Linked DNA regions of Homo sapiens. The protein of the gene in region 1 interacts with the protein of each later gene in a pairwise test. Each region holds a gene or a part of one and is shown in the gene's direction. Other genes may lie near its edges.

Region 1 (4,608 bases):
GAGCAGACACCACCGCATGAACACATCTGCCTGAGCGATGAGCTGCCCCCCCAGAGCGGCCCCGCCCCCACCACAGATCGAGGCACCTCCACCGACAGCCCTTGCCGCCGCAGCACAGCCACCCAGATGGCACCTCCGGGTGGTCCCCCTGCTGCCCCGCCTGGGGGTCGGGGCCACTCGCATCGAGACCGAATCCACTACCAGGCCGATGTGCGACTAGAGGCCACTGAGGAGATCTACCTGACCCCAGTGCAGAGGCCCCCAGACGCTGCAGAGCCCACCTCCGCCTTCCTGCCGCCCACTGAGAGCCGGATGTCAGTCAGCTCCGATCCAGACCCTGCCGCCTACCCCTCCACGGCAGGGCGGCCGCACCCCTCCATCAGTGAAGAGGAAGAGGGCTTCGACTGCCTGTCGTCCCCAGAGCGGGCTGAGCCCCCAGGCGGAGGGTGGCGGGGGAGCCTGGGGGAGCCGCCGCCACCTCCACGGGCCTCTCTGAGCTCGGACACCAGCGCCCTGTCCTATGACTCTGTCAAGTACACGCTGGTGGTAGATGAGCATGCACAGCTGGAGCTGGTGAGCCTGCGGCCGTGCTTCGGAGACTACAGTGACGAGAGTGACTCTGCCACCGTCTATGACAACTGTGCCTCCGTCTCCTCGCCCTATGAGTCGGCCATCGGAGAGGAATATGAGGAGGCCCCGCGGCCCCAGCCCCCTGCCTGCCTCTCCGAGGACTCCACGCCTGATGAACCCGACGTCCATTTCTCCAAGAAATTCCTGAACGTCTTCATGAGTGGCCGCTCCCGCTCCTCCAGTGAGTCAGCAAGGGGAAGCAGTGGGGTGGGGGGGTCCCTAGCGGGGGCAGAGCCAAAATGCGAAGTGTTCTGGGAGGCGACCCCAGGCCCCATCTGGTTAGGACTGAGGCTTCTACCTGCCCCGCTAAACCTGGATCAGAGCTGCGACCCCCCATCCAGCCACACCACCTCACCTGCAGGTGCTGAGTCCTTCGGGCTGTTCTCCTGCATCATCAACGGGGAGGAGCAGGAGCAGACCCACCGGGCCATATTCAGGTGAGAGCCATGGGCTGGCTGGGCCTAGCCAGGCAGCAGTTTGGGCCACACACCACCCTCTACTTGTCACCCCTACATGGCCTCAGCCTAACCCCTGCCATCAGCCTTCATTTATCCACTCAGCCCTGGGAGGACAGTGTCCACTCTCTAGGGACTCAGAGTATGGTGACAAAGAGGATGGCTACAGTGAGGGATCCCAGAACTGTGCACCTAGTCTGGCCAGGGGCAGGGCACCCAGGAGGGTGACCAGGAGGATGCCTGCCCACACCCCACCTGACCCTTCTCTAGACAAAAGCCTGCGCTTCCCACAGCCTCTCCATTTTAGAGGGGGCCCTGCCCACACCCTCCCTTGGCCTGTGTTTCCTCGATGGCAGATGCATGTCTGCTTGACCTTGCTCTCCCCTGGGGTTAGTACTGCAACAGGCACACAGGATGCTTTTGCAAATGTTTACTGAAATAACGATGCTGCTGTGGCTCCCAGACCCCAGAGTAGGCCTGGCTGGACAGGCCTTGGTGCCGAATTTCTCACCTGTCCTTGCTGGGGACAGGTTTGTGCCTCGACACGAAGACGAACTTGAGCTGGAAGTGGATGACCCTCTGCTAGTGGAGCTCCAGGCTGAAGACTACTGGTACGAGGCCTACAACATGCGCACTGGTGCCCGGGGTGTCTTTCCTGCCTATTACGCCATCGAGGTCACCAAGGAGCCCGAGCACATGGCAGGTAGTGTTCCCTCCCTGGCCTGTGCCCCCAGCCACCACATCTGTCTGCCCCAACTTGCTGCTAGGTGAACGTGTACTCCAGATCTCAGCCAGCCAGGTGGGGGGCTGAGTGGAAGTGATTTTAGGTCCTTTTCACGATCAAGCAAAGTGAGGCCCGGCCAAGTTGGGCAGCCAGGGATTGTGGCAGCCTCTGTGGGCTCTGCCATTCCCCGTGCCTCACCCACCCTCCTTCACTTGGCTGCTCAGCTCCCTCCTGCTCTTTCTGCCCCTCCTCAATTCACGCTTGCTTTCCAGCCCTGGCCAAAAACAGTGACTGGGTGGACCAGTTCCGGGTGAAGTTCCTGGGCTCAGTCCAGGTTCCCTATCACAAGGGCAATGACGTCCTCTGTGCTGCTATGCAAAAGGTACCTGAGCCCTCTCCCTTCTCCTCCCTTGGATGGGTCCCTGGGGCAGAGGGACGCAGGTGTCTAGAGGCAGTAAAGGGCTCAGGCCCTGGGACAGGAGGGATCAGCAGAGGAACAGACAGCAGCTGACGTGGCTCCATTTGTCACCTGTAGATTGCCACCACCCGCCGGCTCACCGTGCACTTTAACCCGCCCTCCAGCTGTGTCCTGGAGATCAGCGTGCGGGGTGTGAAGATAGGCGTCAAGGCCGATGACTCCCAGGAGGCCAAGGTGACTTCTTCCAACCCAGCCCCTTCCTTCCATGGCCCCAAGCTCTCCCCCAAGACTTGTGATGAAGAGGCCATCTCCTGTCACCCTCACTGCAGGCCAGGTGACCGCCCTCTTGCTTCTTTTCTCCCTCCTGTAGGGGAATAAATGTAGCCACTTTTTCCAGTTAAAAAACATCTCTTTCTGCGGATATCATCCAAAGAACAACAAGTAAGTGGGGGTGGGATGGCAGTGGAGGAGGCACGGGTGGTCTGCAGCCTTGAGGTGGGTGGGTGTGGGCCGAGCCCCCGTCCCAGCACAGACAGACCTGTCCCTGCAGGTACTTTGGGTTCATCACCAAGCACCCCGCCGACCACCGGTTTGCCTGCCACGTCTTTGTGTCTGAAGACTCCACCAAAGCCCTGGCAGAGTCCGTGGGGTACGTGTACACCCTGCTGAGCACCCAGCCCGAGGGAGCACGCCCAATCCCAGGCCCTGGGGCTGCTTCCTGGCGCTCAGCTTTGCCCCTCGGTTTCCCCCGCAGCTCTGGAGAACTATCTCCGGACCCCAGTGCGGGTGGCCTGGAGGGAGGGTGGCGCGGCAGGGTGAGCCTGAGGAGCAGCTTCCAAGCTTGGTAGCTGTTGGGCCATGTCTTCAACTGACATCTTACTGGGAAACGCGATGGCAATTCTGTAGAGAACAGAGCCAAGTGGCCCCAGCCAGAGGAACCAGAGCTGCACTTGGGCCCCAAGGCTCCAGCGGGAAAACCCTGGGTCGGGATCCTGTTCCTCCCTTGCCAGTGGCGATCTGAGCCATCTGTGTGTCCCCTGGCTTCTAGGAGAGCATTCCAGCAGTTCTACAAGCAGTTTGTGGAGTACACCTGCCCCACAGAAGATATCTACCTGGAGTAGCTGTGCAGCCCCGCCCTCTGCGTCCCCCAGCCCTCAGGCCAGTGCCAGGACAGCTGGCTGCTGACAGGATGTGGCACTGCTTGAGGAGGGGCACCTGCCACCGCCAGAGGACAAGGAAGTGGGGGCCGCTGGCCCAGGGTAGGGGAGGGTGGGGCAATGGGGAGAGGCAAATGCAGTTTATTGTAATATATGGGATTAGATTCATCTATGGAGGGCAGAGTGGGCTGCCTGGGGATTGGGAGGGACAGGGCTTGGGGAGCAGGTCTCTGGCAGAGAAGGATGTCCGTTCCAGGAGCACACGGCCCTGCCCCATCCTGGGCCTTACCTCCCCTGCCAGGGCTCGGGCGCTGTGGCTCCTGCCTTGATGAAGCCCGTGTCCTGCCTTGATGAAGCCTGTGCCACCTGCAAGTGCCCGCCCTGCCCCTGCCCCAACCCCCACCGAAGAGCCCTGAGCTCAGGCTGAGCCCAGCCACCTCCCAAGGACTTTCCAGTGAGGAAATGGCAACACGTGGAGGTGAAGTCCCTGTTCTCAGCTCCGTCATCTGCGGGGCTTCTGGGTGGCTCCTGCCACTGACCTCACCGGCATGCTGGCCTGTGGCAGGCCTAGGACCTCAGGCGGGGAGGAGGAGCTGCCGCAAGGCCCTGTCCCAGCAGAAGAGGGAGGCTTCCTGACTGACACAGGCCAGCCCCATCTTGGTCCTGTCACCCTGGCCCCAACTATTAAAGTGCCATTTCCTGTCTGGACTGCAGTGGATGTATCTGCATGGGCCCCTCCCGTCCCCGTCTCGCTCCCAGCCCAGGAAAGCCAAGCCTTTGTCACACATGGTATCTTTATGAGGGCCTTGGGTCATAGGTGTGCATCATAGTAATACTCGGCAAGGTCGGGCCCGTCCCGCTTGCGCTGCTGGGCCCTAGACAGGAGGGGTCGAGGCCCTCGCGGCCTTGGGTGCTTGGGGAGGATGCCATAGTCTAAAGAGAGAAAAGAGGGCATGGGTGGTAGGGGGCAGCTGGCTCTGATGGAACTGAAGTCACCCTTGAACAGATGTGGTTTGGGATGACAAGCCCCTGAAGGCTGGACTTGGGGCACCTCTTAGGGGCGTCTCCACTGTCAGGGATGGGTAGGGGAAGGGGACAAGAGAGATACTACCATCCACCAGGCCGGAAAGTGGCTGCGAGAGTTCCAGGGGGGCGGAAAATGCCTCAGGAACAGACCGCTGAGACCTGTGGGAGATGTCGGGGTGCTCAGCCCTGGCCCAGAAG
Region 2 (7,293 bases), on another chromosome or scaffold:
TTCCTCCTATATGTCTTAATTTTATACTGTAGCCTCTCCTCAGACTTCAAACACCTCCTCGCCACTCCTCACTCTCAGCTGATCTTGTTTGCTCTTTCTCTGAGAAAATTGGAGTAATCGGAAGACAGCTTCCACAACATCTGTGCCCATCTACTCTGCTTTCTTCTGTTACTCTGGCTAAACTATCCATACTTCTGGCCAAAGGTGTACCTTTCTGCCTGTGCATTATATCCCATCTGCTCCTCTGAGCAATTCTCCCCTGTCTCTTGCATCATCAGTTTTAGCTTTCTACTGGATCATTCCTAAAACATACGTAGTCTGTATTTGCATTCACTAGCTTCTCTTTTCCCCTTCTTTCTTGAGCTGACTCCATTCAGACGTATTATGCCAGTACTTCAGAATTGTTCTTGTCAAGGTCACTAGTTATCTCTACATCACTACATTTAAGGAATCATTTTCATTTCTCATCTTGACTCTCAGTAGCACTTGACCTAATTCATTACTTTCTCCTTCTTACAGACAGCACTTTCTTCAGTTGGCCTCCGAGATACCATACTAGCCTAGATTCCATCTTACATCTCTGGCCGTCTGTTCTCAGTTTTCTTTGCTGGTTATTCCTCATCTCCCCAACCTAGAAATGTTGGAGTGCCCAGGGCCTGCTCATTTGGCTTCTTCACTTATCTGTCTGCACTCATTTCCTTGGTAACCTCATTCATTATTATGGCCTTATATACCATCTGTTGGCTCATAATGTTTTCCATCTTATACCTGAACTCTATACTCATATATCCAACTATTTCCTTTACATCTACTAGAAACTCAAACTTAATATTTTCCAAACTGAGTTCCTGATACTTCCTTCAAACTCACTCTTCCTTTAGTCTTTCCGCATCTCAATTAATAGCCCTCAGTTCTTCTACTAGCTCAGGTTAAAAACCTTAAGTTATTCTTGACTATTAGAAGACTATTTAGGCATCTTGGTTCCTTTTTTGTGCTATCCTTAAGTTTCTCTTAAAATGGGTTTGTTTGGATATCTTCATTAGCTTGAAAAGTCTTATTTTATTTCTGTTCCTGCCTGGCTAGTTTATAAAAGAATGTAAGTTACATAATACCAAGTGAAGCATTTGTATTATTTCCAGCCATTAGTCATAAATGTTTCTGCTTTTCCTAGGCTCATTCATGGACATTGCTTCTACAAATACGAGTAACAAAAGTGACACTAATATGGAGCAAGTTCCTGCCACAAATGATACTATTAAGCGCTTAGAATCAAAATTGTTGAAAAATCAGGCAAAGCAACAGGTTTGTTATGTTATTACAAGTAAAACTGGTAACCTTACCAGTAGTCACAATATTATACTAACTGAAATTAATTATTTACCATCTTCTATTTTATAAATCCTGAATTTTCTTCCTGAAACATGCAAAAGAGCTTACAAATAGAGACACGTAATGAGATTCTCCTACCATTTATTACCAAATGGTTTTTCCTTCTAATGATTGCTACCTTTGCCAATTCTAAATCCCTATCTATAATAATCCCTAAATGTAATGGTTGATGGTTAAAAATGTAAAATGGGTATATTTTGGCTGCGCTGCCCAGTTAGAGGAGTTGTTCTAAGTCTATCATTTCATGCTGTTCAGATTTATTATATTTTTGCCATTGTTGATTTTTAAAAATATTTCAAGGAGTGAGTTTATTCATTTTGCCTGAGGCATTTAGGTTAACGAATAATTGGGGCTTTTAGCTCCCAGTTCTAGTGACTGCCTTTTCATAAAGACAGTATCTGCAGCTTGCTTTCCCTTACCCCTGTAGCTCCCTCTCGTACAAACTTCCCTCTCCTTTCAGAGCAGAACAGGATCTATCAGAATCCCATTTGCCATCTTCCTCCTTTTAGGTTGCCTAAGATTGCTAAATCTAAAGAACTTCAGTAATTCAGATTGACCTGTAATTTTAACAGAGTGAATCTGGACGTTTAAGCTTGGGAGCCTCCCGTGGGAGCAGTGTGGAGAGCTTGCCCCCAACCTCTGAGGGCAAGAGGATGAGTGCTGACATGTCTGAAATAGAAGCTAGGATCGCCGCAACCACAGGTAAAAAGGAACTACAAGTCTGAAGAGTGAAAATGTATATAAGCCTTTTTGGCCATGGTAGTTTCAGTTGTCAAAGGTTTTTTGTGTGTGTCTTATATTTTTTTTTAAATAGGAAGTAGGTTTACAATATATTTTTCTAAGTTACTAGCAATAGTTTATGCATTTATCTCAAATTCCAAATAAGGAAGGTATGACTTGTAAAATTATTTGGATGAGAAAGTATGCCTTCCTCATTTACAGATTTTATCAAATGTAATTCTTTCTGCTCAAACATGAGTTGAAAGTCTAAGTGAGAAATTGAAATTCTGCCAAAACCAGAATATTTTGGGGATTTTCAGTGATACTACTAGATTTTTGTGCTGAACTCAAATAATAGCAAATATTTTGTTTCAAATTTAACAGAAAAATGTATTCCAGATCCATGTATGATTTGACCTTCTATCTGCTTCTTCATTCCAGTGACAAAATAATAGCTAAGCTGGTTGTGGTTAATTTTTTTAATTGTAAAATAAAATATCATAATTTTATTAGATCTTGAAAAAGCTAGCATTTAAATTCCATTGTTCAGTTCTTAAAATTATTAATCATGGAAGAACTGGTCAGCACAAAAACAATTACATGTTTTGTTACTTAAGTAAACTGACAACCTAATTCTGTGACCAGGTTTCATTTTAGTAATGCTGGTTTAATTTGGACGTTTTTGGTTTTTTGCTGATTCTTTCCAGGGATCAGGGGGAGCTGATTTTAAAAGTAAACACGTTTCTGTTGTGGAAAATGTGGAAATGTAAACAAGCCAAAAAAACTTACATAATTACCCCACTCAGAGATAAACACTTAACATTTTTGTGTATTTACCCCATCTTTTAACTATGTATGTGTATAAATGTATATATTCATGTGTATTTGCATCTTTTTTAACTTAGCTAACCAATTTTTTAGGTCTTTTTTTCACTTATTTGGTTTTTTTCTAAATAGAATATTCTCATTGTGTGTGGAGCTCTTTTCAGAAAGAAGTTGTCAAGATGGACCATCATACTATACTTGTCTTCAACTAATCATGATCATTGATTTTATCAGCTACTATTAGAATCCATTAGATATAACAGAATATCCGAAATAACAGTGTCTATAACACATAAGCATTATTTTTCACATATAAACAAGTCTGGAGGTAGTGGGCTCTGTGATCTTGAAGTAACTGGTCTCCTATTTCTGTGCTGTAATCCCTACTGTATAGCTTCCATTCTCAAAGTTATCCTGTGCTCCAAAATGGCTGTTGAAGTTCCATTTCATCACTTCTACATTCCAGGCAATAGGAAGGAAGACATGGGGGCAGGGCAAATAGACATCCAAGTTCTTTGAAGGAACATTCCCAGATGCCTCTCTTAACAACATCCACACATCATTGGTCAAAGTAACATGGTCGAATGGCTACACGTAGCTCCAAGGGAAGAGGAGATCTGCCCTCTTTTATCTGATGACTTTTCTGTCCTAAATAAAATCAGAGTACTATTGCTAAAACAGAAGGGAAGAGTGGAAACTGGCAGAAGATAGCTGTGTCTGCCACAGATGGGTCTTCAGAAACTATCAAGTTGAGTAGAAGTCACCAGCCACTGACAAGCCCATGAGTCTCCATGAGTCACAAGTATTTCTTTGGAGCAGGGTTGTCTCACTGTAGTGTCAGATGAACCCTACTCACCGGGACATACCCTCATGCTTTGAGGAACCCTTTTCACTTCAGGGATGTTGTTCAGGATAGATCTGCCACATACTAATTGCTGTCTCAAAACTGAAAATTGTTATAATAATGGTTTCATGTCTTCGCTAGTATCATATTTCTAGTCAAGCACTGGTTTTTTATTATTATTTACAGAAATGACTTTGCTAGAAGGATAACCACACACATTAAAATTTTGCCTAAGTGTAGAACAAATGCTATTGTACATCCCTTGAGTTTTACACAATTTAAATTTTTTCATGAATTGTCTTACTTGGAAAGAGTCATACTTTCCAGCCTTTTGACAGACTTTGTGTTTACTGTGAATGTACCCTAAACTTTGGAAAATATAATAAATATTTGGTACTAGAAATATGTATAAGTATGACTACAAAAGCATATACATTTCACACTTTGATTCAATAATTATTATTTAATCATTGGATTTTACTTTATAGCACACTTCAAGAAACACCTAACTTGAACATGTATTCCTGTGTTTGTGTAATTAAAACAAATACGACAACTTACTTTTTAACGCCTTTCTTCCTCTCCTCCTTCGTTCCCCCACCCCCATCACAGATCAGTGATTTCACTTAGGTAGACTGTTTCTATGAATATATTTGAAATTTTGCTTCCTCATTACCCTGCAGCTTTGTCTCTGTTCTTTTTATTTTTTTCTGCTAATTAAAACCAGTGTGTAAAACATCTTGTATTTGGTAGTTGTTTGCTCTTTAATCTCGCCTTTTCTGAGCATGGATGAAAAGTTAGGTAGTTCTGCATGCCATTCTGCATGAAATGTTATTAACATGAACTATTTGAAAATGAGTCTATTTTTGTAGTTAATCATTTTCCGTGTTACTGTTTGTGGTTGTTTGCATGTATACTGTATATATGTGTTTTTGCAGCCTATTCCAAGCCTAAACGGGGCCACCGTAAAACTGCTTCATTTGGCAACATTCTGGATGTCCCTGAGATCGTCATATCAGGTATCATAGACCACCTGAGTTGGTCTAATAGCTGTGGAACCGGAATAATGATCCCTGGTACTTGTAAAATGCTTCTTGCTCCAATTTTTACAAGACATGAAAATGGATACCTTGCATGCAGTAATTAGGGAGACAGATTGAAAAACTACATTTATTCTGAAGCAGTCTTGAAAAGATACCTCTGATCTACAATAAGTGAGGATAAAATAGAAGAGAAAGTAAACCTTTTTGGAGAAGGGAGAACACCAACCCAGAATTCTACCAACTTCCTCTCTACTTTTAAGTGAGCACATGAGCTAAACCCAGACCTTTTTTGCACCCAACAGAAAGAGGAAACAACTAATTAAAATTTGTTATTTTCCTTGGCTCCTTTCCTTCCTCAGTTACTGCTTTTTGGGTCCCCTCTAGACTTTCTGTCCTAACCTCTTTCTGTTGGTAGCAAGTGAATGTGAAGTTGAGAGAAGAGAGTTGCTAAATAGCATTTTGCCTTAACCTGGAAAACAAAAAGTAAAGCTAAATGAGATGTGCTGTTTTGCAGGGTATCTTGCCAAAGAATCATGTAAAATAGTTGGTCAATTCTGATTTTTGTGTATTATCAGGAGAATCTCATAAATTACATGTTTTTATACCTAACTTACACATGGTACTTTAGTGTCTAAAATTGGTAAACTGCTTTATTTCTTATGGTGATCATTTCATAGAGGAATATGTTACCATTTTTAATAGAAACTTAAATGGCATATTGACCTTCAGTATTGATTAATGTATTATCAAAATTATCATTTATTTATCCCTTTAGGCTTTTCTCTACCTCTTTACCCAAAATCTTGATAAGGAAATACATATTTTCCACACACGTTCATGAGTGCGAGTTGGATGAATTCTTCAGCATGCTGTCCTTTGCCTGTGATTGTGTTTTTAGCAGTGTTGATAATTCTAGTTGAATACCTAATGGTTATTTTCTCCTCTACTAAACTGAAAACTATGTAAGGATAGAATCCATATCTTTGTGCATTATTTTGTTGTTGTTGCTTATTATTGATTGTATCAGCAGTTGCTGGCTCAGTGCTTCACATATTAAGCATATTAACATAGTGTTTAATAAATACATTTATTAAATAAATGAACAGACCTATTGAGCATCTCCCCTGGTGAGAAACTAGCATACAAAAATATGAATTATACTATTCTTAGGTGCCATTTTGTCTGTATAAAACTATCTTATATTAATTTTCCCCTGGTTATCAAAGTGGTTTCTTATTTTACAACATCATTACTATTGCTATTCAAAGAGTAGAGTTAACCCATTTTTCACATGGTAATTTTTATTTATTGAATCTGGACTGCTTCAGAAATTAACAAAGAGATCATTTTACATGGAGATCAGTTTACCTCCATGCGGAAAGGTACTGTGTATAAGGGACGTACTTTAAAGAGGTGGAAGCATTTAAACTTACATACCGCTGAACTGTGCTTCCCTTAAATGTTTGAGGGAATCAGGAAAATTTAGACAGATGGCAGTGTAATCTTATGACTAAGCATTAAGAATAAATTTATATATGGCAGCGTAGCCCACGCTATACAAGATAATGGGGGAGGGAAAAATAAGGAAAGAATAATAGTTTATAACTGTCAGGTACTACTGGCATCTAGTGGGCAGAGACCAGGGATGCTGCTAAACATCCTGATGTGTACCAGGCAGTCTTCTCCAACAAAGAATGATCCAGCCCAAAATGGCAGCAGTGCTGAGGCTGAAAACCCCTGATTAGATGTTCTTTGTGCCCTACAAAGTAGCTTAAAGTACATCTTATTTTACCTTTATACAATCTTACAACTAGGTTATCGGATGAAATTATAGCTGTTTAACAGACGAAGAACTTAGATCTGATGATGTTTAGTGGTTTTTCCAGAATCATATAGCCAGGACCCCAACCCAGATCTTCTGACTCCAAGTCACATCCATTTTTTGTTCTTTTGTTTAAGTCAGAGAAGCTAGAGTAATTTCTTCTTGCTTTCTCTTAGTGTTCACATTAAGGAGAGCTCTTCAGCCAGGGAGATCCTCTTTTATGACATTGGGCCTTTATGGAATCAGGTAACCTTAATTCTCTTAATTGCCAGAGCAGCAGTGCTATTCATATGAAAATATTATTCAGTAATACCTTTTATTAAATATTCTTTTTAGGCTTTTCCCCCCTCAGATATCAAACATTAACTTACTCAGGTGCACTTTCTTTAATAGAAGAATACAAGCTGTAGAATTGACACTAGTGGACATAAAAGCCAATCATGAATGTGCTCATAGGTAATGTTTTTAAATTAAATATAAAAATACCGCCCATCCTTTGGGAATATCTCAAATTTCCTACATGACATTTTAATTGTAAAGAAGGGTGATACTTAATTTCCAAAATTTCTTAATACTTTCTAGAAATTGTTTTGTTCTAAGTGGATTTCCCACAAGCTTTATGGTATTAGCAAATACTTCTTGATATATTC

What was found.
Region 2: the proteins of MAPK8IP1 (region 1) and MAP3K7 interact in binary tests that used the Homo sapiens proteins (3 or more experiments, as listed by UniProt).

What each region holds. Positions count from the first base shown.
Region 1 is NC_000011.10:45,902,374-45,906,981, forward strand, and holds the end of MAPK8IP1 (C-Jun-amino-terminal kinase-interacting protein 1), read left to right. Parts: coding exon 1-811; intron 812-991; coding exon 992-1,067; intron 1,068-1,615; coding exon 1,616-1,788; intron 1,789-2,081; coding exon 2,082-2,191; intron 2,192-2,344; coding exon 2,345-2,461; intron 2,462-2,597; coding exon 2,598-2,668; intron 2,669-2,777; coding exon 2,778-2,876; intron 2,877-3,275; coding exon 3,276-3,348; 3' UTR 3,349-4,092; downstream 4,093-4,608. Other genes in the region: FREY1 (protein Frey 1), read right to left, coding at 4,196-4,317, 4,496-4,569. UniProt on the Homo sapiens protein: The JNK-interacting protein (JIP) group of scaffold proteins selectively mediates JNK signaling by aggregating specific components of the MAPK cascade to form a functional JNK signaling module. Required for JNK activation in response to excitotoxic stress.
Region 2 is NC_000006.12:90,542,056-90,549,348, reverse strand, and holds part of MAP3K7 (mitogen-activated protein kinase kinase kinase 7), read left to right. Parts: intron 1-1,171; coding exon 1,172-1,302; intron 1,303-1,961; coding exon 1,962-2,091; intron 2,092-4,716; coding exon 4,717-4,797; intron 4,798-7,293. UniProt on the Homo sapiens protein: Serine/threonine kinase which acts as an essential component of the MAP kinase signal transduction pathway. Plays an important role in the cascades of cellular responses evoked by changes in the environment.